Linked DNA regions of Homo sapiens. The protein of the gene in region 2 interacts with the protein of the main gene of each other region in a biochemical or structural test. Each region holds a gene or a part of one and is shown on either strand. Other genes may lie near its edges. The genes, in order: GOLPH3, GALNT2 and GOLPH3L.

What was found.
Region 1: the proteins of GALNT2 (region 2) and GOLPH3 form a complex in vitro, tested with the Homo sapiens proteins (one study listed by BioGRID).
Region 3: the proteins of GALNT2 (region 2) and GOLPH3L form a complex in vitro, tested with the Homo sapiens proteins (one study listed by BioGRID).

What each region holds. Positions count from the first base shown.
Region 1 is NC_000005.10:32,160,957-32,171,319, reverse strand, and holds part of GOLPH3 (Golgi phosphoprotein 3), read left to right. Parts: intron 1-10,363. UniProt on the Homo sapiens protein: Phosphatidylinositol-4-phosphate-binding protein that links Golgi membranes to the cytoskeleton and may participate in the tensile force required for vesicle budding from the Golgi.
Region 2 is NC_000001.11:230,270,907-230,281,269, reverse strand, and holds part of GALNT2 (polypeptide N-acetylgalactosaminyltransferase 2 precursor), read right to left. Parts: intron 9,601-10,363; coding exon of another isoform or gene 9,424-9,600; exon of another isoform or gene 9,160-9,423; intron 6,826-9,159; coding exon 6,706-6,825; intron 1,968-6,705; coding exon 1,812-1,967; 3' UTR 1-1,811. Other genes in the region: uncharacterized protein LOC124904542, read left to right, coding at 9,424-9,600. UniProt on the Homo sapiens protein: Catalyzes the initial reaction in O-linked oligosaccharide biosynthesis, the transfer of an N-acetyl-D-galactosamine residue to a serine or threonine residue on the protein receptor.
Region 3 is NC_000001.11:150,692,569-150,702,839, forward strand, and holds the start of GOLPH3L (Golgi phosphoprotein 3-like), read right to left. Parts: upstream 4,587-10,271; 5' UTR 4,424-4,586; exon of another isoform or gene 3,192-4,423; coding exon of another isoform or gene 3,162-3,191; intron 2,283-3,161; coding exon of another isoform or gene 2,271-2,282; coding exon 2,088-2,270; intron 1-2,087. Other genes in the region: HORMAD1 (HORMA domain-containing protein 1), read right to left, coding at 6,086-6,166, 7,544-7,615. UniProt on the Homo sapiens protein: Phosphatidylinositol-4-phosphate-binding protein that may antagonize the action of GOLPH3 which is required for the process of vesicle budding at the Golgi and anterograde transport to the plasma membrane.

The DNA.
Region 1 (10,363 bases), on a different chromosome or scaffold from region 2:
TAAAACATTATGAAATTTTTTTTGCAATTTTTTTTTTTTAAAGCTCATCAGCTATTGCTAGTGTTAGTGTATTTTATATATGGCCCAAGACAGTTCTTCCAGTGTGGCCCAGGGAAGCCAAAAGGTTGGACACCCTTGCTCTAAATGTTTAAGGTGAAGCATATTAACATGCTGTTTTTCGGTGATTGGGTCTTAAGAAGATAATCTAAATAATTTGTTGAAGTTTAACCATACTCACATAATTTAAACAATTTAAAGTTATTTGGCGGGTAATTGAAACCATGTGTTCTGTTTATTTTGCATCAAGAGTCACTCATTATACTTTGCTAGTCATGGCTAAGGTCCAGATGCTTGCTAGCTTATTGTGAGCATTTCTTCCTGATTTCAGCAACCACATGGGGAAATTTTTTCTCTTTTTTTTTAGGCAAGTCCAGAGAGTTGAGGGGTGGGGTTGAGACTACTGGGATTTTGTATTGCTTTAGGTTTTGGTTTTAGGGATTAGCCTATATATTTTTTCCTTTCATCACATCTTTAAAATTTTTTTTTTTAAGAGATGGAGGTCTCAAGATGTTGCCCAGGCTGCACTCAAACTCCTGGGCTCAAGTGATCCGCCCTGAGTAGCTGGGAATACAAGGTGCATGCCATCAAGCCAACTCATCATGTCTTTACACTCTAATAACCAGCCCTGTCAACTTATCTGTTGGTATGTTTTTCCCTTGGGAGGCTCGCCACCATGTTTTTAACCTATAGTACTCTTTTTAGGAGGCAGGAATTGCTGTCTTACCCTGAGCCCAGGCGTTTATGCTAACTCATTGCTTTAACTGATTTTTACTTCAGCATTTATCTTTTTAATGTCTGGATTCTCCTAAGAACTTTAAAAGCTAAACTTTACATTTAAGCAAATCATTAATGTTGGAAATATTTTATATATGTGAGCTAATAACCTTATGTGAATATACTTGTTAAACCAGTACCTAGAGCAAGAAACAGAAGCCCTAGCCCTCCACTTGAGTATCTTTCCAGTCACTACCCATTCCTCAGGGGTAACCACTGGCTTAATATTAGAATTCAGCATAGATTAATTTTGCCTAGTTTTTTGTACTTTGTGTCTGCTTTTTGTTCAATGTGAGATTCATCCATATCGTGTGAGATTGTCCTTTGTTCTTATTGTCTTACCAATTTATTTTTAACATGTTTATAATCTATAATATTTAAAAAATTACTTTGACATATTCTGAGTCAAGTCTCCCTCTCTTTTTTGCTGAACAGAAGGTTCAGTTTTTGAATAAGCAGATGGTCTGGCTTCAGATTACCTGTTAGGAGTGAGTCTAAAGTCATTGTGATTGATTTTTTTTTTTTTCTTTACACATTTCAGATTTTTTTTTTTTAACCAATGATATTTGTTTTTTGCTTTTATAAAACAGGGATGGCTAGTCCCCTCAGAAGATTTTCATGCTCACTTGGGCAGAGAATCAGTGCATAAGTATTTAAGTAACTCTTTAAAGACCACAGTAAGGATGGCAGATAGTTTACACCTAAATTCAACTGCCAAGTAATTAGCAGTATTTCTTTAATTGACCCAGTGTTTGAGGGGGAGGGACAGCAAAAGTGCCAGGTATTTTCCTTTCCCTGTGTGTGTTTATTCTATAGATGCTTTCCATAGAATATTTTCAGGATGCTTTATTGAGAATTACCACAAATAACTGGTGTCATATATGTTTGAATGTCTTCATTGGTGGCAAATCTTAGTCTTTTAAGGTTAGATTTAATTATTTTCAGTGGCCAAGTATAATTTGGAGTATGCCTATGGAACAGCAGAAGCAGAGAGAGGCTCTATAGTCCTGTCCAAAGTGTATTCTTTGGCTTTTACATATAATTTAAGCCTTCTGAGCTTCAGTGTTTTCATGTATAATGGAAAAGTAGTCATTCCATATGATGGTTCTGATTGTACTGCTGTGGATGTTTATTAACTCCTCCCCAGGTCTTCGCTTTATTTTGTATTACTTTAGGGTTTCCCCATAGTGTGTTGCCTGTTTTTGAGACAGGGTCTTTCTTTGTCACCCAGGCTGGAGTGCAGTGGTGCGATCTTGGCTCACTGCAGCCTCAACCTCTTGGGCTAAAGTGATCCTCCTGCCTCAGCTTCCCGAGGAGCTAGGACCACAGGCACACACCACCATGCCCAGCTAATTAAAAAAAAATTTTTTTTTTATAAAGACAGGGATTTCACCACATGGCTCAGGCTGGTCTTGAACTCCTGGGATCAAGTGATCCTCCCGCTTCAGTCTCCCAAAGTGCAGGTATTAGAGGCATGAGCCACCGCACCTGTTTTTTTTTTTGTTGTTGTGTTTTTTGGTTTTTGTTTTAAGACAGATTGTGCTGTGTCGCCAGGCTAGAGTACAGTGGCGAGATCATAGCTCACTGCAGCCTCGAACTCCTGGCCTCAAGTGATCCTCCCGCCTCAGCCTCCCAAAGTGTTGGGATTACTGCGACCGGCTCTAGGATGCACTCTTGAAGCATATTATTCCCCTGCTGTTTTGTCATGCAGCCAGACTTGTCCAATCATATGTTTTCTTTCAGGGCTTTGGATCTTGAGAGAATAACGAGCTGTAGGGTTTTTTGGAGACCTTTCCAGAGTCATGTCAGCGTGTGGATCAGACTGTTCTTTGGCATGGTTCTTTGAGCTGCTTTCTCTGGTCTGTTGGCACTGTTTTTTTCCAGTCTGATTTTCCAGTCATCTTTCAGTGTTGTGAGTTTCAACAGCCTTCCAGTAAAGTTGCTTTTTAAAGATAGCCAGAGTCAGTTACTAATGTTTCTAATGCTTGTAGACAAGAACTGTAATACAGTAACTTAACTCTATGTCTTGAAAAATAAGTAGGTACTTGAGGTAAATAATATGTAATGGGGTAAAATACTTAAGATTAACCAAAATGATAGAACTGACTTTTGTGTGGCTTTTACACAGGCTCCAAAGATGTTTTCCATTTTTGGAATAAGGTTCCCAAGGTCACTACTTTGAAGTATAATAGTGATGAAGATGTATAACTTAACAAAAATTGTTTTCCTTTCTATACGTGTGGTGATGTCCACCATCTCTACATATCAAATCTGTAAATCAGAAATTCAGTCAACAAGTATTCAGAATTTCCAGATGTGCTGAGTTTTAGTAATTTAAAATATAATAAAGGCTTCTGAGTTTTTAATGAATTTTCGTTGTTTCTAAGACAAATGATATTTCCTTCATATTTTTTGAAGTTTTGAATTTTTATCTATTTTTTTCAGGTGTTTAAACACAGGTATGAGATATACAGGATCTCAGAAATTACTTTTGAAGTTCATTAAACTATTTGATTGTACTTTTTTTCTTTTGAGACAGGGCCTAGCTTTGTCTTCCAGACTGGAGTGTGGTGGTGTGATCATGGCTCATTGCAACCTCGACCTCCTGAACTCAAGCAATCCTCCCTCCTCAGTCTCCTGAATAGCTGGGACTATAGGCGCACCCTATCATGCCCAGCTAATTAAAAAAAAAAATTTTTTTTTGTAGAGACGTGGTCTCACTATGTTGCCTAGTCTCGAACTCCTGGCCTCAAGCAATCTTCCCGCCTTGGCCTCCCAAAGTTCTGGGATTACAGGTGTGAGCCACCACGCCTGGTCTGCTTATTATACCTTTTCAACAAGATTTTATACTGTTGAAATTACTTTTTAGTGCTTTGGGATTCTTTTACAATATGGTCAAAATATTCACTAACTCATCTCATAAGTTATACTAATATTTGATATTTGTTAATTTTGGACTACCTGAGAGTTCTTGTATGGAGCATTTGAATTACGTTTTAGAATTGTATTTTGAAGGCTGGGTGCGGTGGCTCACACCTGTAATCCCAGTACTTTGGGAAGCCGAGGTGGATGGATCACCTGAGGTCAGGAGTTCAAGACAAGCCTGGCCAACATGGTGAACCCCTGTCTCTATTAAAAATATAAAAATTAGCCAGACATGGTGGCGAGCACCTGTAATCCCAGCTACTCGGGAGGCTGAGGCAGGAGAATCACTTGAACCTGAGAGGCGGAGGTTGCAGTGAGCCAAGATTGCGCCACTGCACTCCAGCCTGGGCGACAAGAGTGGAACTCCATCTCAAAAGACAAAACAAAACAAAAGAATTGTATTTTGAAGTTATTTTGATAGATTTTGAAATATTTGGGGGATTTTTTTGATATTTAAAGAAATACACTTTTATAATATCATCTTACATGTAAATCTTAAATACCCTGGAGGCATCAGGCATTATGCTTGTTCTGGTACATAATGTTAAGCTTTTGGCTGTACACTTTTTTATGTCTTTGCAAACTCCCCCCCCCTTCTAACAGCATAACTTTTCTACTGCCATTAATCAGATTAAATAGTATAAAACTATGCTGTAGTCTTTGTTTAGAGGATTTATCTTCATGTTGTGAGTCTCCCTTTGAAGCAGCACAAAAAGACAGTGCTTGTCCTCCTCCTGCTTTTTTTTTTTTTTTAAGATGGAGTCTTGCTTTTATCACTCGGGCTGAAGTGCAATGGCACCGTCTTGGCCCACTGCAACTCCGCCTCCTGGGTTCAAGTGATTCTCCTGCCTCAGCCTCCCAAGTAGCTAGGATTACAGGCGCCTGCCACCATGCCCAGCTAATTTTTGTATTTTTAGTAGAGATGGGGTTTCACCATGTTGGCCAGGCTGGTCTCGAACTCTTGACCTCAAGTGATCCGCCCACCTCGCCTTCCCAAAGGTCTGGGCATGAGCCACTGTGCCCGGCCATGCTGCTGCTTTTTAGTAAGTGTCCTGACAAGTGCCAAAAGTGGAAACCTGGCTTCATTTTGAAATTGATGTTTTTGGCTTCAGGTTTCTCTTATCAAAGCTGGGAAGACTGCAACCTGTTTTAATAGCATTGTACAGTATTACAATGTAATCTAGTACATTTTGAGGTTTTTGACTTAGGTATTACAAATATATTTAGAACATAGGCTATTTCTCTTCCCGTTTGGTAAACCTCTCATCTGCAAAAACACAACTAATATTAAAGTACAGTGTATTGCCAACAAGGATGTTTCTGGTCACTTTTAAGAATAACATTTTAAACAACAACAAAAAAATTTACTTATTTTTAAACTTAATGCATTGTATTTGATTTACATATTCCTTTAATGGAGAAGTTCTTAAATTGGAGTGAACAGAGCTGAGAAACTTTGTGAATTCTCTGCAGTTGTGTGTTTTCTTGGGGAAAGAGGACAGAACTTTCATTAGATACTCAAAGCATTTAGTGAATCAGGAAGGTTAAAAATTACCAAACAGGAACTGTTTGTTTTAGCTTAAGGTTTTCGTCTTTTCTTTTTCCTTCCTGAAAATTAACTACAGAAAATTCCAGGTTTCCAGGGTTGTAGCGAGTTGAATTTTAAGTGATTTGAGATACGAAGTCCACATTTCTGTGGCCTGTCTAGAGGTTCTCATCTTGCTAAATGACATTTAGAAGCAGCATAACTGCTTCTAATCTAGGATTACCACACATCTAGGATTCTAACAGTTTTCATCCATTCATCAAATGTTTACTGAGCACATGCTCTGTGAGAGGCCCTTTACTAAGTACAAATTCACTGAAGAACATGTCTGTCTTCAAGTTCATTCATTTTAGTTCTGTGTGTCAAAGCTCATATAGTAAACTACAAAACTAAATTATGTTGCTGTTCTAGAATTTTTTTTTTTTCTCTTCTGAGACAGAGTCTTGCTCTGTTACCCAGGCTGGAGTGCAGTGGTGCAATCTATGCTCACTTCAACCTCTGCCTCCTGGGTTCAAGCGATTCTCCTGCCTCAACCTTCTGAGTAGCTGGGATTACAGGCACTCACCACCACACAGGGGTACTTTTTGTATTTTTAGTAGAGACAAGGTTTCGCCATGTTGGCCAGGCTGGTCTCAAACTCATGACCTCATGTGATCCACCCACGTTGGCCTCCCAAAGTGCTGGGATTACAGACATGAGCCACCCTGCCTGGCCTGTTCTATAATTTTTTGATGTCATATATTTCAGGCTGGCATTTGGCAGTCACTCAGTACAATGACATTACTCACATTAAGAATACATAATTTACCTAACCCTGGCAGGTGTGGTGGCTCATGCCTATAATCCCAGCACTTTGGGAGGCTGAGGCAAGGGGATTACCTGAGGCAGGGAGTTAGCGACCAGCCTGGCCAACATGGTGAAACTCCATCTCTACTAAAAATACAAAAATTAGCCAGGCAGGGTGGTATGCACCTGAAATCCCAGCTACTCGGGAGGCTGAGGCAGGAGAATCACATGAACCCAGGAGGTGGAGGTTACAGTGAGCTAAGATCATGCCACTGCACTCCAGCCTGGGCAACAGAGCAAGACTATCTCAAAAAAAAAAAAAAAAAAAGAATACATAATTTACCTTATTAAGTAAGCTAATATTATTTATTAAAGTAAATTTACTTATTAAATAAATTTACTTAATACATTTACTGTATTAATTAAGTAGATTACTGGCTTTATTAAGTAAATTATGTATTCCCAGTGTGGTAATGTCATTGCCAAGGGAGTGAAACTTGGTTCTGGGCGTGGTAGTGAAAGAATCGTACTCTTGGCCGGGCGCGGTAGCTCACCCCTGTAATCCCAACACTTTGGGAGTTGAGGCGGGTGGATCACGAGGTCAGGAGATGGAGACCATCCTGGCTAACATGGTGAAAGCCTGTCTGTACTAAAAAAATACAAAGAAATTAGCTTGGCGTGCTGGCGGGCTCCTGTAGTCCCAGCTACTCGGGAGGCTGAGGCAGGAGAATGGCGTGAACCCGGGAGGCGGAGCTTGCAGTGAGCCCATATCGCGCCACTGCACTCCAGCCTGGGCAACAGAGTGAGACTCCGTCTCAAAAAAAAAAAAAGAATCTTACTCCTCTTATGTATAAAAAGGCACACTTACAGTGTACAAACAAATATGTATATTCCATCATATTAAAATTTCATGGGGGAGAAGATAATGAGGAAAAAATCTGGAAGTACTTCTTAAGGGAACAGTGATGAAATAAAGGGTGAGAAACATTGAAATAAGTCACTATGGAAAATTATAAGCTTGTGCTTAGTTGAGGTTTAGAAATCTTTTTCTCTGATAGGAATTTTTATTGCAATAGAATTTGGCTTGTAGTTCAGTAGGAAGAGGAACAATTTTAGCATACTGAACTGCGTGTAGGAACTTATGAGTTAAAGTTTTAAGGTAAAAGTTATTTTTATTGATAATATATAGGCAAACTTTGTATTCCACCACTACCTTCTGGGACAGATTAGAAATTAAGAAACTGTATGTAAAAGTTGCTAATGGTTATTTTTACTCTGGTTTCATTTTCTAGTTCCAGTTTCTTAAATGGAAATGCTAAACAGTTTATACCGTATTAACAAAATAACCTCAGAAATAACACTTAAGAACTTAAATTTCAGTTCAGTCACTGAATGGAGTATACCATTTAATTTTTGTCTATACCATGTTGTGTAGCTAAAGTGAAATTAGAGGTTATTTAGTATTTATATGTTCCGTTTAATCCAAGTATTGAACAGCTTCTCTGTGCCATTCATTCCCTTTGCCAGATGCTGGGGTTACAAAGAAAAAAAATATATATATATATGTATATATTTTTGAGACCAAGTCATGCTCTGTCGCCAGACTGGAGTGCAGTGGCATGATCTTGGCTCATGCAACCTCCTCCTCCTGGGTTCAAGCAATCCTTGTGTCTCAGCCTCCCAAGTAGCTGGGATTACAGGCACATGCCACCATGCCCAGCTAATTTTTGTACTTTTAGTAAAGACGGGGTTTCACCATGTTGGCCAAGCTGGTCTTGAACTCCTGGCCTCCCAAAGTGCTGGGATCACAGATGTGAGCCGCTGTGCCCCCGGCCACAAAGAAAAATTTTTTGCTTTTAAGGAGCATTCAGTCTGCATAGAAGACAGATTTGCGAATGATTTCAATAAAGTGAATTATTAACTTTATCCTGCCTGCCTCTTCTGAGTTACTAACTTTTATGGGAGTATGTGTTAGGTGCAGTAAGGATGTACATAGGGAGGATGCTTTGGATCAGGACCTGCAAGACTGCTGTGTTCTTGACACCTAGCCTTGCCCTTGAGTAGTTGAAAGAATTAGAATAAATATTTTGAATTTTAGAACCTTAGTTTTCTCCTGGGCAAAATGGGCCTACTTTTTTATTTTTTATTTTTGAGACGGAGTCTCGCTCTGTCACCCAGGCTGGAGTGCAGTGGTGCAATCTTGGCTCACTGCAAGCTCTGCCTCCCGGGTTCACGCCATTCTCCTGCCTCAGCCTCCCGAGTAGCTGGGACTACAGGCGCCTGCCACCACACCCGGCTAATTTTTTGTATTTTTGGTAGAGACGGGGTTTCACTGTGTTAGCCAGTATAATCTTGATCTCCTGACCTCGTGATCCGCCCGCCTCTGCCTCCCAAAGTGCTGGGATTACAGGCGTGAGCCACCGCGCCCGGCCATGGGCCTACTTTTGTGTTCTGTCCGAAAGCCTCTAAGTTGTAGGGATCCAATGTGTTGGCATATGTGAGTGCTTTGAAAACCACATGGTGCTGAACAAATGCAAATGGGTAATTACCTAGCCTAGAGAAGTAAGTTAAAGTTTATAGTGGTCTTGACAAGTGACAAGTATTTAATATTTCCATTATTTTTACTATTTCTTGATTCTCTTGCACTTTATATGCTGGGCTTACTGAACGTTTTACTCAAATTCAGATGCTCATCTATGCGTGTATTTTTTTAAAAATTTTAATTTTTTTTTTTTTTGAGACGGAGTCTTGCTCTGTTGCCTAGGCTGGAGTGCAGTGGCCCAATCTCTGCTCACCGCAAGCTCCGCCTCCCGGGTTCATGCCATTCTCCTGCCTCAGCCTCCTGAGTAGCTGGGACTACAGGCGCCTGCCACCACGCCTGGCTAAATTTTTGTATTTTTAGTTGAGACGGGGTTTCATCGTGTTAGCCAGGATGGTCTCTATCTCCTGACCTCGTGATCCGCCCACCTTGGCCTCCCAAAGTGCTGGGATTACAGGCGTGAGCCACCACGCCTGGCCTTAAAAATTTTAATTTTTATGGGCACATAGTAGGTGTATTTATCTCTACCTTTGTTCTGAACCTCTGGTCAGTTTCCTTTTTGTAATTCCTGGCAAAACTGGTTTGGGAAATTTGGAAACTTGAAGTACCACTTGACTTCTGATTTTTATTTTTTTATTTTTTATTTATTTATTTTTCTTTTTTGAGACGGAGTCTCGCTCTGTCGCCCAGGCTGGAGTGCAGTTGTGCGATCTCGGCTCACTGCAAGCTCTGCCTCCCGGGTTCACGCCATTCTCCTGCCTCAGCCTCCCGAGTAGCTAGGACTACAGGCGCCCGTCACCATGCCCTGCTAATTTTTTGTATTTTTAGTAGAGGCGGGGTCTCACCGTGTTAGCCAGGATGGTTTTGATCTCCTGACCTCGTGGTCCGCCCGCCTCTGCCTCCCAAAGTGCTGGGATTACAGGCGTGAGCCACCGTGCCTGGCCCGACTTCTGATTTTTAGGTCAAGCCCAGAGTCTTCCTTAAAGAATCCTTGGGATTGGTTCCATGATTCCTCTTTTCCAGATACTGCTTAGCCTCCAGACGTATCAGTAGCCTCCAAGCCTCCAAAATGACTCCAGTCACAATTAAATAAAATAGCACATGTAAAGTGCCTGATAGTTGGTGCACAATAAATATTAAGTTTCATTACGCCTTGATGCTCCAAATCAGAAAACTCAAAAGGCCTTGACCTCTTCCAGCCCTTGTGGTCAGCAGTTCTCTCCACCTTTCCATATTCTCAGCTTTGGTTTTTTTTTTTTTTTTCCTCAGCTTTGGTTTTTTTTTTTTGAGACAAGGTATGCTCTGTCACCCAGGGTGGAGTCCAGTGGTGTGATCTCTGCTCACTGCAGCCTCAAACTTGCTGGGCTCAGGTGATCCTCCCACCTCAGCCTTCCAAGTAGCCGGGACTACAGGCGTGCGCCACTATACCTGGCTACTTTTTGTATTTTTTGTAGAGATGGGGTTTTGCTGTGTTGCCCAAGTTGGTCTCAAATTCCTGGGCTCAAGTGATCCTCCCTCCTCGTCCTCCCAAAGTGCTGGGATTACAGATGTGAACCACCGGGCCCAGCCTCACCTTATCTTTTTGATGCCACCCAATTTTTTTTTTTTTTTTTTTTTTTTTTTGAGACGGAGTCTCGCTCTGTCACCCAGGCTGGAGTGCAGTGGCGCGATCTCGGCTCACTGCAGGCTCCGCCTCCCAGGTTCACGCCATTCTCCTGCCTCAGCCTCCCGAG
Region 2 (10,363 bases):
ACCTATAGGGCAGCCCTCCAGCCAGGCTTCCACCTCGGGGCCGCTGTCCTACAGTGCACACATGTGGGGCTCCCGCCGGGGAGGAAGACACACAGTGGCCCCTTTCATACAAGACACAGGGAGGAGCATGGCACCGGCACAACCTCCCAGGGTGGCTCCTAACTCCAAGGCCGCCGCTGTCCCACCGAGGGGCCTGCAGGTGTGCCTAACTGACGCTTTTCTCAGACTGCCAGGCCGTGCCAGCCTCTCTGAGACTGAGCATCTGTGTGTGCGGCGCTGGAGAAGGCGGCCAGGAGTGGAGGAGGAAGCAGGGCACCGACCACAGAGTGGCAGGGGTGACGAGGAACATTCCTGAGCACCCAGGTAGAAGCCAGGCACCTCTCCCCGTTATGACTTTCAGTTCATAACTGTCTGTGGTTTAACAGGACCCCAAGGCTCCTGTCTCCCGCCCTGAATCCTCAGTGTAAATGAGCAGGTATTGTTTGGTTCTGACCCTTCCTAATTCTTTCCCCAAAGCCCCCTGAAGCAGTCATCTTGGCCAGGCGGGGTGTGGGAGGGAGCTGCGGGCGGGGCAGGACTCGCTGCCTGGCTGGAGCTCCCCAGGCCAGCAGGTGTGCAGGACTGTGAGCCAGGCCTGTGCCCTGGCTGACGGGCTCATCCCTGACACTGCTGGCCATTAATTCTGAAGGCCCAGCGTGCAGGGCTCAGATCACAATGAAGCCAATACTAGCGTGTGACAGCTGCCTGGCATCATTGGTCTGCCCTGTCGCCAGGGGGCAGCGGTATTGCTGGCTCACACAGAGCTATGGGGTATGTCTTATATTCCTTAGAGAAAAGAAATTTAATGTAAAAAGACCCAAAGTGATATCTGTCAAAATAAGTAACCGCTCCAGGTTCACAGATACGCACAGCACGCAAGGTGGATTCTGACGCACAGTAGGGACTCTCAGGCTGACGCCCAACAGGGATGCCGGGGCCGAGGCCGGTGGTCTGGAGGAAGCCCCCCAGCTGGCCACAGCAGTAGCACCAACTGGCTGATCGGGCTCCAGGGGACAAAGGCCACCTCCTCCCTCTGTGAGAAACTGGCCCCACCGGGCTCTGGCCCCTTCTCCCGGAAGCTGCGAACGGCTTTGTGGGGAATATACAAGATGACGATGATCTACAGAAACCATAGGGAACTGACCGTACATTCTTTCTCTATATAGCTTTATATTTAGTGTCCCACCATAGAAAACTTCATCCTCAATATAGCAAGTACATGAGGTGGAGGGGAGTCTGGCCCAGGAAGACACTTGCGAATGGAGGAGCAGAGAGAGGGACTATTGACGTAAACCTGCCACGTGACACGACTCGGCTTTGTGGAAACCATACGTGATTTCGAAGGGATTGAAAATGGAGATTTCAAGAGTTCTCCTCGCTCCCCTGGGGCATGTGTGCCCCCTCCTCCCGCCCTGTCCTCAGCTCGCACGCATCCGTTCAGTTGCTTCTACCACTCCCCAGTCGGTTGTCGCTGGGTGTCACTCAGTTGCGGAGCCGGCAGAAGTGAAAGCTGGAAGGAAGAGGGGCGCTCCGGCCTGGGGAAGGGGGCCCGGCTGGGCTGCACCGAGAGGAGGGGGAGGGCAGTTCTCGCTTCTTGCCGCTGCTGTGTCTGCACAGTCGTCCGTGCCTTGCCGAAGTTTGACTTTCAGACCATGATGGAATACTGAGGTATATTAGTTTCGCGGAAAGTTTAAGAAACATAATCAATAATGTGATCACCAGACTCCACCCAATGGTGCAGGAGACAGGACGGCAGGGCCTCCCGGACCCTCCTACTGCTGCAGGTTGAGCGTGAACTTCCACTGCTGCGAAAGGGCCGGGCCACACACCTCCACGCTTAGGCCCCCGCTCTTGGCCGTGCGACTGTCCAGGCACAGGTTGCTGCCCACGTGCCTCAGCTTGGAGTTGCCCTCGATCTGTTCCCATTTCTGCAAGACACAGGAGAGTGCCTTAGAGTGTGGGCACAAGCAAAGGAGTACAAACAGATTCGTGTGAATTCAGGACCTTGTGGCTGCATTAAAAACTCACAGATAGACACGTTTTTCCCAGCCTCTCATCTGAACGGCCGAGGAGCTTGCAGCAGCCCCACAGGAAACCAGCCACAGGTGCTGCTGGGACCCAGGAAGGAAACATATTCTCTGCCTTGGATCAAAACTCAGAACGTCTCCTGCCCCAAACTTTCTGTGGGTGTCCCCTCCTCTGAGCCCCAGAGCTCTGGGCACCCACCCCTTCGTCATTAACACAGGATTTGATGTAGGGGAATTTGCATGCCTTCGTATGAAAGCTTGATCCAGTGATGGTTCACCCCAAGAAGGGATCCACACAATGCAGGGCCAGATCCTCCCCTGGCTGTTGGAAAGCAGCCCTGCCTGGAGGCCTTGGTCTGGGCACCTCCATGCTCCCACTTAGGGCTTTCTGCTCGGGGGAGCCAGAGGAACGGTGTCAGGCCAAATGTCAGGAAGAGAGATGGTTGTTTGAACAGAACATAGCATTGAGAAGCCTATTTCTATGTAGTCTGTTCTCTACTGGTGTGCAAGCTCCTTGGTGGATATGAGAAACTTGTCTCTGCTACCCTTGAGCCCCCTGGTGCTCTGTATGGCAGGGACCAATGTTTGCTGAGTTCTGAACATGCCGCTTGTAAAGTACAGGGTACGATGCCTCTTTACTAACACTCAAATCAAGCGAACAACCAAACTCAACCCACATACCCGTTACCCACCAACTAAGCCAGAATCAAAGTGCACAACCCAGCCTGAAGGAAATCTGAGGAGCCCTGTTTAGCAAGTAACATAAATACCCCTTTCAGCCTGAGTGCAGGCGGCTCACGACACTAATCCCAGCACTTTGGGAGGCCGAGGCAGGAAGATCGCTTGAGGCCAGGAGTTCAAGACCAGCCTGGGCAACATAGCAAGAACCCATCTCTACAAACATTTTTTTTAAAAAAAATTAGCAGGGCATGGTGGTGCATGCCTGTTGTCCTAGCTCCTTGCAGGCTGAGGTGGGAGGATCGCTTGGGCACAGGAGTTCGAGGCTGCAGTGAGCTATGGTCATACCCACCCCTGCACTCCAGTCTTAAGCAACAGAGTGAGATCCTGTCTCTTAAAAAAAAAAAAAAAAAGAAAGAAAAACAGAAAAATCCCCCTTTAAAAATCTCTAATGTTTGTTCTTAAAAAAAAAAAGTAACATTTTTTTCTTCCCCAAAGCTCGTTTCAAATAATGAAGTCTGTGGTTCTAATTAATTTTTTATACTGTGTGCACGAAAGCTCCTTCACCTAAGTATTTTTTGCAAATCCTTTTGACATTGCAGAATTAAATTTTCTCACTCCTGCCTCCCTTTCCCCTTTGACTCTGCAAATATGCACAACATATGAAAACATGGACGTGCCTGGAAACCAAATGTTCCAACTGGCAAAGCCAGTTCAGTTCCAAGATAAAATTTGCTAAGGAGCTTCCTCTTGAGGGGCCAGTGAGTGAGGCAGGGAGGAGCCGGTGCAGGCAGAGGAGCCCAGTGCTGGGGACCCGACCTGCGCGAAACACCACAAGGATGTTGTCACTTGTACCCTGCTTTCCTTATTTCCGTCCACCTGCTCACCTGGAGTTCTTGCCAGCAGGGAAAGACAGTGCAATCAGAGGAGCCGGGGAGGCTTTTGCTAAGTGCCTGTCATTGCCTCTTTCATTTCCAGCTCCCTCGTTGCTGTCAATCACCCCTCATGCTGTTTTTCCCCATTGTCATGTAAAGTGTGTATGTATTGAGGCTGCCCTGTTACTCTGAGCAGCCAGGAATCTTCTCAACAAAGAATTCGGAATGAACGGAATCTGATTCTGGCCACTGGAGGGACTGCCTGTCATGTGTCAAAGCATCAGCTAAATCAAGAACCTTAGAAAAACAACAACAAAACCCCAGCTCCGTCTCGCACAGGTGGCCTTGTGGGCTCTGATCTGTCTGTCTGATGGGATTGTGGTTGGGGGTGGGGAGCGCAGATTTTCAAGGCAGTCAGACTCTACTGAAACAGCCCCCACATCCTCTCTAATAGCCTGAGTCTTGGGGTTTAAAACCTAACAGATCCCCATTTATACATGCCATACATCCAGAAAAACTTATTATTTATAGGTCTTTTCATGCTTCACAAAGGTCCTAAGCCGTGTCAGTTATGGTTCCCCAAAACTGGGACTGAAGCAGAAACACCTGTCAATTCTTGAAATTAAGCAATATTGAAGTAATATTTGTTTTTTAAAAAGGTGTCAACTAAAGTCATCACTTTATCAATCCATTACATCCAAAGACATCTCTGCTCCGTTACATCCCAGGGGAATGTGTTTGAGACTCACCCAGTACTTGGCTCAGCAGATGCCAGCCTTGCCCTCGAGGAGCTTCCTCTCGAGGGGCCAATGAGTGAGGCAATTTCTAGGTGGTTTGGGTCCAAGCGGTGCTAGCCTTCTCTTGTTTAACAGGCACTCCCTTACACATTTTGGTATCAAGTCATCAACACAGATGGACATTTAGAGATGCGGATTGTGAGCAGAACCCTAGAGAGGGGCTCCCACTGCCAGGACAGGCTGGGACTCTGCAGAGCAGGGAAGGAGGAGCACCCAGAGCTGGCGCAGGGGTTTGGAGACAGACAGGTGAAAGAGGGCCCTCTGCAGGCGTCTCCCTGACAACTGGGGTCAGAACCGGGGACTCGGTCCTGGCCTTGGTCTTCCCAGATGACTCCAGGGTGGAGGCAATGACTTTCTGAGACTTTTCTGTTGTGAAATCAGGGTTAGACTAGAAGCTGGCTTAGGCTCTTGGCTCCAGTAGGTTCTGTGCCTCAGTTTCCCTACATCCCATCTATCTCTAAGGACCGACTGTAAGAACAGGGGCAGGCACTCCAAGTATGGGCATACAGGGAGGACCTTTTGTGCTTGCATTTCTATTCCTGACACTAACTGTTACCCCATGCCTTGAGAAAGGGTGTGTCCACAAGCTGCCACAAGGGAATACGTCAGAGAAAACCGGCTTACAAGGCAGGTAGAAAGTCTATTCTGAAATGTTTAAAGAAACTGTGTGTATATGTGTGTGTGTGTATATATGTATATATATGTGGTGTGTATATATATGTATATATCTGTGGTGTCTATATATGTATATATGTGTTTATATATGTATATATATGTGGCATGTATATATACGTATATATATGTGGCATGTATATACGTATATATATGTGGCATGTATATATACGTATATATATGTGGCATGTATATATACGTATATATATGTGGCATGTATATATACGTATATATATGTGGCATGTATATATGTATGTATCTGTGGTGTCTATGTATATATGTGGTGTTTATATATGTATATATCTGTGGCATTTATATATGTATATCTATGTGGCATGTATATACATGTATATATGTGGCATGTATATTTGTATATATATGTGGCATGTATATATATGTATATATCTGTGGTGTATGTATATATGTATATATATGTGGTGTTTGTATATATATATGTGGTGTGTATATGTGGTGTGTATATATATGTGGTGTTTACATATGTATACATGTGGCATGTATATATGTTGTGCTTGTATATCTATGTGGCGTATATATATGTGGTGTTTATATAAATGTAGCATGTATCTATATGTATATATATGGTGTGTTTATATGTATATATATGTGGCGTTTATATATGTATATCTATGTGGCATGTATATATATGTATGTATCTGTGGTGTGTGTGTGTATATGTATATATATGTGGTGTTTGTATATATGTATATATGTGGCGTGTATATATATGTGGTGTGTATATATGTGGTGTTTACATATGTATATATGTGGCGTGTATACATGTGGTGTTTATAGATGTATATGTGGCATGTATATATATGTATACATATGTGGTGTGTATATATATGTGGCGTTTATATATGTATAAATGTGGCATCTATATATACGTATACATGTGGTGTGTATATATGTATATATGCGGTGTTTACATATGCATATATGTGGCATGCATATGTATATATATGTGGTGTTTATATATGTATATATGTGGCAGGTATATGTATATGTGGTGTGTATATATGTATATGTGGTGTGTATATATATGTATATATATGTGGTGTGTATACATGTATATATATGTGGTGTGTATATATATACGTATATATGTGGCATGTATATATGTGTATATATGTGGCGTGTATATATGTATATATGTGGCATGTATATATGTATATATGTAGCATGTATATATATGTGGTGTGTATATATGTGTGTATATATATGCTCACATATATACACACATAGACACACACACTTGCATTATGTATCGAGTACCATCCATGTGAACATTAATCATTTAGAATTTTTGTAAATTGAAATAGAAAAAAGTATTTGATGAATAAACAAAAGTAGATAATTTCTCTTTAAATTTTCAGCGGCATAGGGAAGAGAATGAGAATATAATCAGAAATAAGCAACATTAGGTTTGTGGCTTAAGTCTAATAGGGCAGCTAGACATTATTCACAGTGATGCAAAAGAACACATAAGTACACGCAGAGATGGATGCTTTGAGAGGCAGCACAGAGCAAGAGGGCGCAGGCCGTGGCTACCCTGGTCTGGGTTAATCACGGGCACCCACGGGTGCCTGCAAGCCGTACCTGTCTGCTGTCATTTTCTCGGCAGCCCTGCAGCTTTATAAGAGAGCCCGGTGCCCGGTCCACCACAGTAAGGCACAAATCCATGTGCTTCACCGACTTCTCCTTCGTCAAGGCCCATTCCTGGAACACAAAACCAGAAGTCAGAGGCGTGCTATGCACCGGGCTGTGAAAGGAAAGAAGGGGCATCGATGAGGGCTCAAAAAGGAAATGGGTCACGGGGTGGAGCTTAGATTCAGAACCCCTGAGCCAACTGAGAACGAAACAATTACTTTTTGCCTAAGGGCAAATTTATAACATCAGAGATGTGGGAGAACCTCACAACTGAGCAGTAAGTTGGCTGAGTGATGTGCAGAAGTGCTTTGAGGACCTCAGTAACTAAAATAAAACTATTAACTATTTTAGCCCCAAATACAAGTTAGACTGCCTTGTTCATTTTTCTATAATTCAATGTGAGCTGTAAAAACTGTGGCACAAGCTTGGTTATACACCAGGTAGACAGTTGGCAACTGGTCCACCCATGCTATTTTGGAATGACTCTGCCCTCATGCAGGTATGGCCTGCAAACAGCATTGATGAATGTGAACTGTAGTAAATAACACATTGCATATGTAAGCAAAATATATCGTGTATAGCCTCCTAAGTGAATGCTAATTGATCTATGGGTGCTCATGAAGCCCTCTGAAAACTGGAGGAATAGATCTATGAATTTCTTTGAATACATTACAGCTAAATTTAATGGGGTGCTATGTGCCAAGCATTATTTTAAGCCCTTTATACAACAGCTCCATGAGGGCTATTATTATTCTCATTTTATAGATGAGAAAACTGAGCTAGAGAGTGTTTAAATAACACACCATGATGTTAACAAACAAACACACACATATATGTACAAACACACACAAGTTAAAGGCTGTGACAGGGTGAGAGGACAACCATTTTGGATACTAAATGAGACATGGTCCCAGGTGGCAGAGGAGGCCGGAGCCTGTTCCAGGCAGGGCCACAGCAGGGACTGGAAGGTGAGGCTTCTGACCATCACTCTCCATTTGTCCCACTCAAAGGGATGAACACCCCTTAATATCGAGGGGCAGCAAGGCCCTTTCCAGTTTAAAACCCCACAGGGACTCACTATCCACTTCCATCCCCTTCCTCTCTAAGCCCCAGCACGCTGCAGTGGCCCTCCCCTCCGTCTGTCTGTCTGTCTTTCTATCGGTCTGTCCCATGACCACCTGCTGCACACCTGTATGACACCGGCGCTGTCACAGAGCCAGGCTCCCTTTCTAGTGGGGAACATGAAAGACACACAAATAAATGTATTCTGCAACTTCAGGCACTATTATGTGCTATGAAGACACTGTTTTTTTCTTGGTTCTTGGAAACAGAGGTAAGGAAAGGAACAAATAGTGTTTAAAGAAGCCTCACTGTCTAGTATCTGTATCATGTTGGAACAAATAGTCCGTCATTAGAAAAACATTAAAAGGTGAAGATGCAGCCCGGTGTGGTGGCTCAGGCCTATCTATAATCCCAGCACTTTGGGGGCCAAGGCGGGAGAACTGCTTAATGCCAGGAGTTCAAGATCAGCCTAGGCAACATAGCGAGACCTTGTTTGTACTAAAAATAAAAAATAAGTTGACCGGGTGTGGCAGTGCATGCCTGTGGTCCCAGCTACTTGGGAGGCTGAGGTGGAAGGATTGCTTCAACCTGGGAGGCCGAGGCTGCAGTGAACTGTGATTGTGCCACTGCATTCTAGCCTGGGTGACAGACCGAGACCCTGTCTCCAAACCGAACTGAACCGAACCGAACCAAACCAAACCAAACCAAACCCTAAAGATTCTAGCATTCAGACCTTATACAACCACTGGCGGGATGCACCATCTCCAGCTCTCAGCATCAGCAGAGGGGATGCAGAGGCACGGACACCCGTCTAGGAATCAGTGAAGACACCTTCACCTGTCTGAAGACTTCCTCCTCCCCTAACAGGGAGGGAGGCTTGGGCAAGCCTGCTCACTTCCCGGGTCTTCCATTTTCTCACCTTTTAATTAGTGTTCCTCACATTCTACTCTGTGAGGAATCCTAGGAAAGACGGATTCTAGGTCAAATGAATTTGGGAAACAGACTTTGTGCTGTGTTTATCTCTCGGAAATTCAGTCTATTAAAGGCTCTGAAGAGTCCTAGAGTAGAAGCACCTGCTTGGCCTGTGCACTGTAGCATTCCAAACACGGCATGGAGGCAGCCCTGACCCACCCAGCCCTGCCGGCCACCTTCTCTGGGGAAGGCCACCCGACCCTGAGTCGAATCCCAACATTCTATGATGCTGTCATTCAACATGGGTGAGTTCCAGCCAGCTCTTCCAAGCACCCACAGGCACTCACGTCACCCATACTCTAGGACAGTGTGACATCATAAAAATAATTATTTGGTCTCTGGCACAATCACAAGGCTCCTAAAACCCTTGTCATTTCCTGAGCCACAGGGGTTTTAGGAGCATCTTTCATTCTAGTGTTTGGTCTTTGACCCCGGTTCCCAACAAACAGCTCCTACTCCCTTGGAATTTATTGGGTGATGGGAGTGTCTTGTTCTAATGAAGCAACTCTAATGGGCTCCTGGACGGGGCTGGTCACCAGAAAGACCAGGTTATGCTGAGAAGCTTGAAACCGTCAGTCCCCCGCCACCCCATCCTCTGGGAAGGGAAGAGGAGCTGGAGATCATGCCCATGTGATGAGGCCTCCGTCAAAGTCCTTGCACTCCGGGATGTGGCTGCCGGACATGCGGAGGCGCTGGGAGAGCGGCACACCTGGAGAGGGCGTGGAAGCTCCAACACCCCACCTCCACACCGCGTGCTATGCATCTCTCCCGTCCAGCTGCTCCTGGGTTTCAGTCTTTCCTAATGAACAGGTAAGCCACGAAGTAAACCGTTTTCCTGAGTTCTATGAACTATTCTTGCAAATGAATGAATTCAAGGCGAGGTCGCGGGAGCCCTGATTTACAGTCAGACAGCAGGTGACAACTTGGACTTGTGACTGGCATCTGGAGTAGAAGCATCTTGTGGGAGGAAGCCCATAACCCGTGGGGTCTGTGCTAACTCTGGGTAGGCAGTGTCAGAACTGAGTTGACAGGCATGACACTCAGTGTCCGCAGAGAATTGGAGAATTGGAGAATTGCTTGGTGTGGGGGGAAAAGCCCACAGGGCTGGTGTCAGAGGTGAGAAGTTTTGTGAGAGTATAAAGGAGGAAAAGCAGCTTTTTTCCTATTCACTGGGTCACAGAGTATGGAAGGTGTGGAGTGTAGAGAGGAAGCCGTGTGTGTTTCCCATAGGCAGATGGCGTTCAGGATGGAGAGGGCCAGGAAGAAGCACATTGTTCCGTCCCTGCACTCACAGGGGCTGGGGACACCACCAGGATGTGTGAAACTGTGGTACACAGAGACGCCCACTCACAGTGAAGAGGAGAGTCCTGAGTAAGAGGGACAACGCTGGTATGGAGAAGGGTTCCAGACTGTCCCTGGCAGCAGGTGTTGGCGGATGCTGGATGGTCTGCTGACACCCAGTTAAAGATCATGTCTGAATGTTTTTACAACCTCCTTGCTATTGTGTGCTTAATTACTGTAAAGCAGACTTTACACAGGATTCCAGAAAAACTAATTCAGCTGGGCAAACAAC
Region 3 (10,271 bases), about 80 Mb from region 2:
TTTTTGTAGAGATGGTGTCTCACCATGTTGCCCAGGCTGGTCTTGAACTCCTGGGCCCAAGCAATCCTCTTACCTTGGCCTCCCAAGTGTTAGGATTACAGGAATTAGCCATTGCATCCAGCCATCTGCTTATTTTGTACAGTATCTCACCAATATGTTAAGTACTCACCATGGCCATAGCTCTTAATGAGCTGCTTTATTTTTTATTCTATTTCCTAAAATTTATATTAACCATTATAAACACATGAAGACAAGCCCAAAAGCAAAAATTCCAGTGCATAAGGTCAGCAGGAAATTAATCATTCCTATTCAAAGCTAAAACAAACCAAATAGCTTTTAGTTCTATATCCTCTTTTTATACAGTCAGTGACTGTTTCCTAGGTAATGTGTAAACGTCTCAAAAGAGTATTTATATCACCTAATCTTCAGTCCTATTCTGACATTCTCTTGGAGAGCTGGTTTTGCCTTTTCGTTTATTTGCCTTTTATAAAACTGAAGGCTCATCAACTTCTCAGCAAACAGGAAAATATATTTCCGGGCAAGAATTTCTGATATACCTACATCTTGGCCAGGTACACATAAGCATGTCTCTAATATTAGTTTTAACAATACACAGACTATAACTGGTCTGTAAATTTTGTTCAAGTTGGTAATTTAACAAGAAAAAAAGTAAAAAGGAAAATAGTAAATAAATGAAAGGCAAAATCTAAACAACAATGGTATTTCCAAGTCGAAGAATTATGTAGAAAAGAAGAGCTGTTACTACTTGTATGCAGCCAATTCACTTCTAGCTAAGGATAATTATCAAAGCCAAATTTAGTACTTTTAAAATCTAAAATAACATTCTAATTTTGTATGTTTTCAAAACTGAGGCCAGTAATAAATATACCTCTTTCTTTTCTTGCAGGCGGTGGGCGAGGGGGGGCGGTTATTTAAGGCTTTCCTGGAAAGAAAGCAGATTGTTTAAAATGTTACCTTCGTAACTTCTTCATGAGGGAATAGTGTGATGAGAAAACACAGCAAAAAGTTACAAATGAAGGATGATGATGTATACTAGTAGAGAAGCCAGGGAAATTTCTGGTTATATCACAAGACTCAGGACCTTAAGACTAACTGTACTATAAAATAAATGTTCCATTAAATAAGGAGACATTTAGGGAAAAAAGAGAAAAGCTAAAATTATTTTTAAAAATTTTCAAAAATTAAAATAATCCTCAATTGTTTATGTATGTGTGTGTGTGTGTGTGTGTGTATATATATATATATATATATATATATATTTTTTTTTTTTTTTTTTTTTTTTTTTTTTGAGGCAGGGTCTCACTCTGTCATCCAGGCTGGAGTGCAGTGGTGCAATCTTGGCTCATTGCAACCTCCGCCTCCCAGGTTCAAGTGATTCTCCTGCCTCAGCCTCCCGAGTACCTGGGATTACAGGCACCCGCCGCCACACATGGCTAATTTTTTATTTTTAGTAGAGACGGGGTTTCACCATGTTGGCCAGGCTAGTCTTGAACTCCTGGCCTCAAGTGATTCACTCACCTCGGCTCCCCAAAGTGCTGGGATTACAGGCGTGAGCCACCGCGTAATCCAACTGTTGATATTTGCCTTATAAAGATGCACAGAGGAAAATAAAAAATTATTTCTGCTATAAGAAACCTACCAATTGTTTATTTCTGTAAGGCAACTAATCACACATGTTCCTTGTCTTTTCATGTAAAAGACTATTTCTCCTCAAAGCTGAAGAAGACTTCAGTGTGTGGGCCCTTGTTCTTACTTTAATAAACGGTATTATTTCGCCTTTAATCTAACTTGGGAAACTACAAGTACAAAACTTTATACTATATCCTCCTCTCCTGTATCTTCTAAAATTTTGGAGTAATTTTGTAATTAAATACACTTCACGTAATTCTACTTCTGGATTTTTACCCTCCAAGTATCGGTCACTGTCCCAACTCCTCCATCTTCCAGATGGTTAGAGCACAATTCTAAGACCAATTTATTATTAAATATATTCCATTAGGTTACTTCCTAAAACATTCCAATATTTAATAGTCTTTGAGATAGCCTAGCAAACCTAACTGCATTACCTCTTTATCTTTTAGTCCCAGAAGCAATACTTCTTCCATAAGAGTAAGGCGGATATCCTTAGAGTCTCCAGAATCTTCATTGTCTGGACTTTTCTCCCAATTACTGTCTTCCTCACTTTCCATCTTCTTTTCAGAGTTCTTGCTTATTTCAGTGCGACGGGCCCGGTGAGTTAAAGTGGTCATTCTCACCTGTTTCTGGAGGGAGTGGTGAAAAAAAAAATCCATATGTATGCTTATGTAAATAAATCATATATTCATACATGCATACTAAACATCCATACAAATAGGAAATATTTACAGATTTAAATATAGAAAGAAAGGAAGGAGTAATGACCAGAAAAAAATGGGTGGGTAATACAGTATCTTTTCCAAAGTACAATAGCTTGGACTTCACAGATGGCACTGACAAAAGATCAAATGAGTAATTCTAAAGTCCAGTAGAAATGCTCATCTTTCAAGCCTGTTGACTTCTTTTTTTCTTTTTCTTCTTCTTTTCTTGAGAGGGAGTCTTGCTCTGTTGCCCAGGCTGGGAGTGCAGTGGTGCGATGTTGGCTCACTGCAACCTCCGCTTCCCAGGTTCAAGTGATTCTTGTGCCTCAGCCTCCTGAGTAGTTGGGATTACAGGTGTGCGCCACCATGTCTGGCTAATTTTTGTATTTTTAGTAGAGATGGGGTTTCACCATGTTGGCCAGGCTGGTCTTGAACTCCTGACCTCAAGTGATCTGCCTGCCTGGGCCTCCCAAAGTGCTAGGATTACAGGCATGAGCCACCAGGCCCGGCCAAACCTGCTGATTTTTTCTGCATAATCTATAAAGAAGGAGTGAATATCCACCATTGTCACTCCTCTTTCACAAAATGGATCCCAAGTTAAGTAAGATGGAACAACAAAAAATTGTGAGCATCCAGCCCCAAAATGCATATAATAATTTGTATCTAATTTCTATAAACGTTCCATGGTACTACATTATAAAAAAACACAAAAAATAGAAAGTAAAAAAGAATACGAAAAACTAAATAGAAATACATGTTCTATATTTCCTTCCCATACCCTAATGACTCATTTCATGTACTCACTTTGGAGATCACAAGTCTAGACGATAACATTCAGAAAATCATGTGTAGTAATTCCACAGTCAGTAAACTTAGCAGCTCTAGTCCTAGCTAGCCATATCTTGCAAATACACAAGGAGCTGCAAACAAAAATTACTGGCAAGAGAGTGTTGAAAGATTAACAAATTTTCTCAATTTAAAAAAAAAAGTCAAAGAACATGTCTTTTATTCTATGTACTACGGTCAAAAGAAACTGCACTAAATCATTTGTGATAAAGTTTATAGTTAGCATACTTTATTTTATATAAATCTAGATATCAGTTTTTAAGATAATATATAACAAATATTTTAAATCAGCAATTATATAAAGGAGTATCTTTTTCAAGATCAAAATAATGGTATTTAAGAGTTGCTATGACTGGACTCGTTTCTACTCCTCTAGCAATATTTCCCATTGCTCCTAATAAGTAGTGTTGCCAGACTTTTTCTCAAAAATGTCTCATGCTTTCTTTCTGCTTCTGCTCCTCTGTACTTGCTGGGGTCTTCACCCTTTTCTCTTCCTCTTTACATTCTACCCATTCTTTAAAGGCCTTGTGAAGGCCTTTAAGTGACCTCCTCTTTTCTATTACCTATGTGTCTCATGGCCACTCCCTCAGCTGTTTCACAGAGCTTTATTTATACTCACTTCCTTTAAAGTATTTATTATAGTCTTTCTCTTGGTATAGCTGTCTCTCAACTGTAAACTTCTTAAGAACAGGGATATTGTCTTCTTGGGTTTATATATTCTCCATAGCAACTAGCACTGTCTTTAACATTGTTATTGCTCGATAAATTTATATTGATTAAAATGAATACTCAGAAGTGCATGTGAACATTTAAAATAGAAATACAAATGAAGTGAGCTACAAAAGTTTTTTTGTACAAGGGTATATTTCAAATATAATTTGTTATGGGAGGTGGGAAGAAAAGTGAAGGAGGAAGAGAACCATGAAATAAATTCTTAAGCGCACTAAGCCTATCTGGCACTGTGAATAGGGACTATTTCCTAAACCAATCCAAGAAACTTTAAACCTTCGCGGGGCAGGGGGGGAGGGGGAGAGGGGGCGGTTTCTTTGAGAAATTAGTTTCATCTGCACATTTACTAGTTAAAAATCCTACTTGAAAGAAAACAAATGGCCCAAATGAATACAAACCTTTCCCTCCCATAAAATAATAATTTTAAAAAATAGAGGTTTTTTTTGGTGGGGGGAAGGGACGTTAGGAAATGTAATTTTCTCGTTGCTTACCTGATGTTACTCCTGGGTTATGGCTGGACGCAGGCTGTAGCTTGTGCTGTATTTTAGAAGGACACCTGTTCTCCCCACCCCACCCCCGTCCTAGTAGGTGAAAAACTTAGCCACGCAGAGAGCACAAACTTCCTGATCCTTCGATGCAGAGAAGGAATAACACATCAGCTTCCTCAGGATCACTAGGCAACCTACCTTGGTGTTTCTTCATTGCGCCAATCAGAAATCACCAAGGTTGAGTCCCGCCAATCGGAGCTCACAGGGGGAGGCTCTCCCCCAGCTATTCTGTTGCGATCCAGACAAACACCACCAAAAGGAGGCAGGTTTGCGTTCAACCTGACAGCTGGTCAATCCAATGAAGGAACCTTGGTGGAAGAGAGGAAAGAGGGCTGCGCTCCCCACCCCCATTAAACCAGCCAATCAAAGCGCTGAGTGAGCTAACATGGGCTGCCAATCTCGAAAGGTTTCTGTGGGTTAATTTCAGCGTAGCAGGTGTGTTGCTGTAGTAGCGTATACTGGGACAATTAAGTGAGATGTGTTGGGATCCAAGCAATACAGCTAAAAATAAATAAATATTTTTACATTGGTTGTTTCTGACAGTCAGTTTATCCTTGACTTGACTGTTCCAGAAAAACATGATCTGGGTCAGTTTGTGTACGTTTATATGGTTTACCTTAAACAGGATGAATACATTTCTACCATCGCATATGTACCAGCATTCCCTATAGCGCTTATTACTGACAAACCCATGGATGTGTATGTTTTTGGAATATGGCTGCTGAAACTACAAGCGGCAAACAGACCAAGTTTTAAGTCTTCCTTTTTCTAAAGCAAAGAAAGCAGGCAAGGCTGGAACTAGCTCCCAGGTTTCTCATTAAAAGCACAGCATTTTTCATACTACCACTCAAAAATTCTAGAAAGTGTGCTCAACTCTTCTTGCAAAGTAATAGCTACCGAAATCATCTAAAAATTAGTATTCCCTATCCCCCCATCCTCCTACCAGCCTTTCAAATGAATGAAGCCATATTTCCTGCTACTTAAATAAAAATTAGAAGCGATAAAAGGGCCTACGTACTGAACAATATTTTATTTATGCTGCAAAAAATGCCATACTTTAAAAATCAGTCTTTTTGTCCTGTAAAAAAAAGCATAGTAAAGGTAAAGCACCAATTCTTAAATTGTACATTATATATTAAAATGTTAATACATTATGTCAAAATATTGAAGAACATTGTTTTAATAACAGCACAATGACAAAAGAGCCAGTTAAATGGTATAATTTTAACATAAGTAAAAAGTGAATCCATACCAAATTTTAATACCAAAGTAAACATTACTGTTTAGAAAAATGGCATTAGAGGGCCTTAACAGTTAGTATATATTTAAAGGAAATATTAAGTAGGTAATGAACAAAATCAATTTTGAAATTTTACTTATTACCGAATCAATTATGACATTTGTACTTTTGCTTTTATTCAAAAGTTCTATTGGATTTATCTCAAGATTAAGGACCACAATATGACAGTCAGCCAAAAACTTAGTTTTAGTGTACAAACTGCTTTAAACTACATATACATCTTCAGAGTTAGGGAAATATAATATAGGGTCCTTCAGTTTAAATGGTGAGAAGAACTCTGCAAGCCTGCAGAACAAAAATAATTTTTATATATGTTCCTTTGGTTCACTAAACTTTCTCCTTTTTGGCACTGACTCTTGACTAGAAGAATCAAAGTGATGGAGGACCTGTCAAAAGAAAACAACTACTAAGAATAGATACTTTCCTGTTTAAATGTCTTTAATTGTAGATTTTTTCATGTATCTGAGATTTCTCTTCTTTTTAAAAAAATTTATGCCTAGCATACCTAGCATAACTATATCTGGGTTTCTTAAAAGTAGAGTAAAATTTATTATTAACATCTTCCAATGGCTGCTGAAAGTATGTACTTGCAAAATGTATAATCTTCAGTAGGGCTGCTCTAGAAGTGAGAAGATAGATTTAACATTATGTCCTCAAAATAGCCAAATATTTCAGAGCAATAAGAAGGGAAAAAAGATTTTAAAATGAACTACAAATAGAAAAACATTCTACCTTGGAATCATGTACGATTTAAATCATGTCTTGCTTTTGTACTCTTGAGACGTTAACATTTGAGTTTTAAAAATAGTCTTAGGTTTTCAGTTGTTTAATTCTAACCTACTAATAATACTAAAATATCTAGTTGGAAAAATATGAATAATTATCTCAGAAATGGCAAATACATTATCTGATTTGGTAAAATAAGGTTCTAAATATGAAACAACTATAGGGTTTAAGTCAGGAAAATATTTTTTTCTCCAGAGGTACTAGGAGGAGACCCTATATTTTTAGGGAACACATGTATTTAGTAAATTATCCTCCTTCTACTTCAGTTTTGATCTCTAGAAAGCTCAGATCAAATTTGTGGCCCAATTTCAGTTCTATATAAACAAAATGGCCTTAGTATTCTTGTACTGTCACTTTCTCATTCTATATTCTCTTATATTTTTCCTGGCACTGATTTTTTTTTTTTTTAAAGACGGAGTCTTGGTCTGTCGCCAGGCTGTAGTACAGTGGCGCGATCTTGGCTCACTGCAACCTCCACCTCCCAGGTTCAAGCGATTCTCCTGCCTCACCCTCCCGAGTAGCTGGGACTACAGGCGTGCGCCACCACGCCCAGCTATTTTTTTTTTTTTTTGTATTTTTGGTAGAGACAGGGTTTCACCATGTTGGCCAGGAGGGTCTCGATCTCTTGACCTCGTGATCCACCTGCCTCAGTCTCCCAAAGTGCTGGGATTACAGGCATGAGCCACTGCACCCAGCTGATTTTTAATTTATATATTATAAATTCCTCCAATTACTTTAAATCATTCATGGAATGAGACAGGAGATGTTTACATGGAAAAAACTAATAAACCAACATAGGGCATCTTATTTCAAAATCACCTCGATTTTTAGAACAAAATATATTTAAACAAAATTTGAATATCAGAACTCTCAGGTACATCGAAAGATATCAAATTCATCATTTTAAATTTAATCTGTAGTAATGATATTCTGATCCTTCCCATTGTATTCAAACTATACATTATCATAAGACTTACTATTCTCCCAGATTCATGTTGACTTCTCTTCCGATTTTCTTTGGAAGATTTTACTGGTTGATTTCCATTTGCCTCCACAAAGATAGAATAATTACTAATTGGTTATTTCTCAAAGAACAGCCAACACTTGATTTTTCAATCTTATGCAACGATATGCAATATTTATTTATTTATTTACTTTTTAGGGACAGGGTCTCCCTCTGTCACCCAGGCTGGAATGCAGTGGCACCATCATGGCTCACTGCAGCCTGAAACTTCTGGCCTCAAGGGATCCTCCTGCCTCAGCCTGCCAAAGTGCTGGGATTACAGGAATGAGCTACAGTGCCCAGCTGGATATACAATTTTTTTAAAAAACAGCTTTATTGAGATATAATTTAGATACTATATGATTCACCCATTTATAAGTGTACAATTCAATGATTTTCAGTACCTTCACAGAGTTGTACAACCATCACTACAATCAATTTTACATCACTTTCATCACCCCACAAACAAACCCCATATACCTTAGCTATCACTCTCTTATTCTGCCATCCTCCCACCAGCCTTAAGACTGTCTCAATAACTTTCCCAGTTCTGACTTTCAAATGAAAGGAATAATACAATATGTGGACTTTTGTGAGTAACTTCCTTTAATTAGCATGTTTTCAAGGTTCATCTAAGTTGTAGCATGTATTGGCACTTCATTTTTTTTATGGCTGATATTCAATTGTATGAATATACCACATTTTTTAATCCATTCATCTGTTGATGTATATTTAGGTTTTTCCCATCTTTCGGCTATTGTGAATAATGCTGTATATATAGTTATTAAAATGAATATTGGAAAATGACTAATGATTAGGTGTCATACAACTATTCTCTAAAAGGATATACTTCTTTTCTGATGCTTGAAATGAGCTTTCCAATGATAACTTCCTTAGTATATATAATAATGAATATTTTCATTTCTTGCCCTTTTCTAACCACAATTCAGTAATAATTCTCAAAATCAGGAGTACACTTGCTCAGAGTTCATATCCAAAAACATGTGCAATTTCAGAAATAAATTTATGTCCCTAAATCATCTTAATGTTACATTACAAGGAGATCTTGCTTAATAATTTTTAAAATGCTGGTCTCTATCCCTATATCCTAGTAAAGGTTATTCATCCTACATATAAACTGGCTAGGATGAACATTTTGCTTCTAGAAGTAGTAAATCTTGACATTCCTTTATCTCTTGCTTTCATGAGATACTCATTTGAATGCTGCCTTCTGCCAGTTCTAACTTCCCATTGAGAATAGGGGTGGGGGAAGACACTTAAAAATGGCACTATAATGAGTAGTGTTCCAATAAATGTTTAATAACCAGCTCTAGGAGAGAAACAAACCTTGAGGCATTTGCTGATTTCTGTGCTGTGAATACTACCAACATGTCCAATTTAAGCTACCAACATGATATCTCTGAGTGGGGAGTTGGGAATAAATGTTCTAGCACACCACTAACAGAGTGAGCTATTTATTTCCTAAACTTTAGATATTTTATATATTTTACAGAATGCTTTTTCTTCACCCCAATGAACCTTTGAGAGTAACTTAAAGGTCTAAAATCAAATATGAATTTTGATTTAGTATAATTCATACCAAAAGCTAAAATAAAGCAGTGATTTTTTTCCCTTAAGAATATGAGATTCATTTTATACAAGATATATACAAAAGATTATTTTGTAATGTCTTATTAACAAGATACTCAATTTATAAGACTGAGCATGGTGCTCACTTCAGCAGCACATATGCTAAAATTAGAACGATATAGAGAAGATTAGCATGTCCCTTGCACAAGGATGACATGCAAATTCATGAAGCATTCCATATTTTTCAGAGTGAACAGAGAACCTACAGAATGGGAGAAAATTTCTGCAATCTATCCATCTGACAAAGGTCTAATATCCAGAATCTATAAGAAACTTAAACAAATTTACAAGAAAAAATAAACAACCCCATTAAAAAGTGGGTAAAGGACATGAACAGACACTTCTCAAAAGAAGACATTCATGTGGCCAACAAACATATGAAAAACACTCAACATCACTGATCATTAGAGAAATGCAAATCAAAACCACAATGAGATACCATCTCATGCCAGTCAGAATGGTGATTATTAAAAGTTAAGAAACAACAGATGCTGACGAGGCTATGGAGAAATAGGAACACTTTTACACTGTTGGTTGGAATGTAAATTAGTTCAACCATTGTGGAAGACAGTGTGGTGATTCTTCAAAGATCTAGAACCAGAAATACCATTTGTCCCAGTAATCCCATTACTAGGTATATACCCAGAGGAATATAAATCATTCTATTACAAAGATACATGCACCTGTATGTTCACTGCACCACTATTCACAATAGCAAAGACAGAATCAACCCACATGCCCATCAGTGATAGACTGGATAAAGAAAATAAGCAGCCATAAAAAGAAATGAAATCATGTCCTTTGCAGGGACATGGATGGAGCTGGAAGCCATTATCCTCAGCAAACTAACACAGGAACAGAAAACCAAACACCACATGTTCTCACTTATAAGTGGTAGATAAACAATGAGAACACATGGACACAAAGAGGGGAACAATACACACTGGGGCCTGTCAGGGGGTTGGAGGGAGGGAGAGCATTAGGATAAATAGCTAATGCATGTGGGGCTTAATACCTAGGTAATAGATTGATAGGTGCAGCAAATCACTATG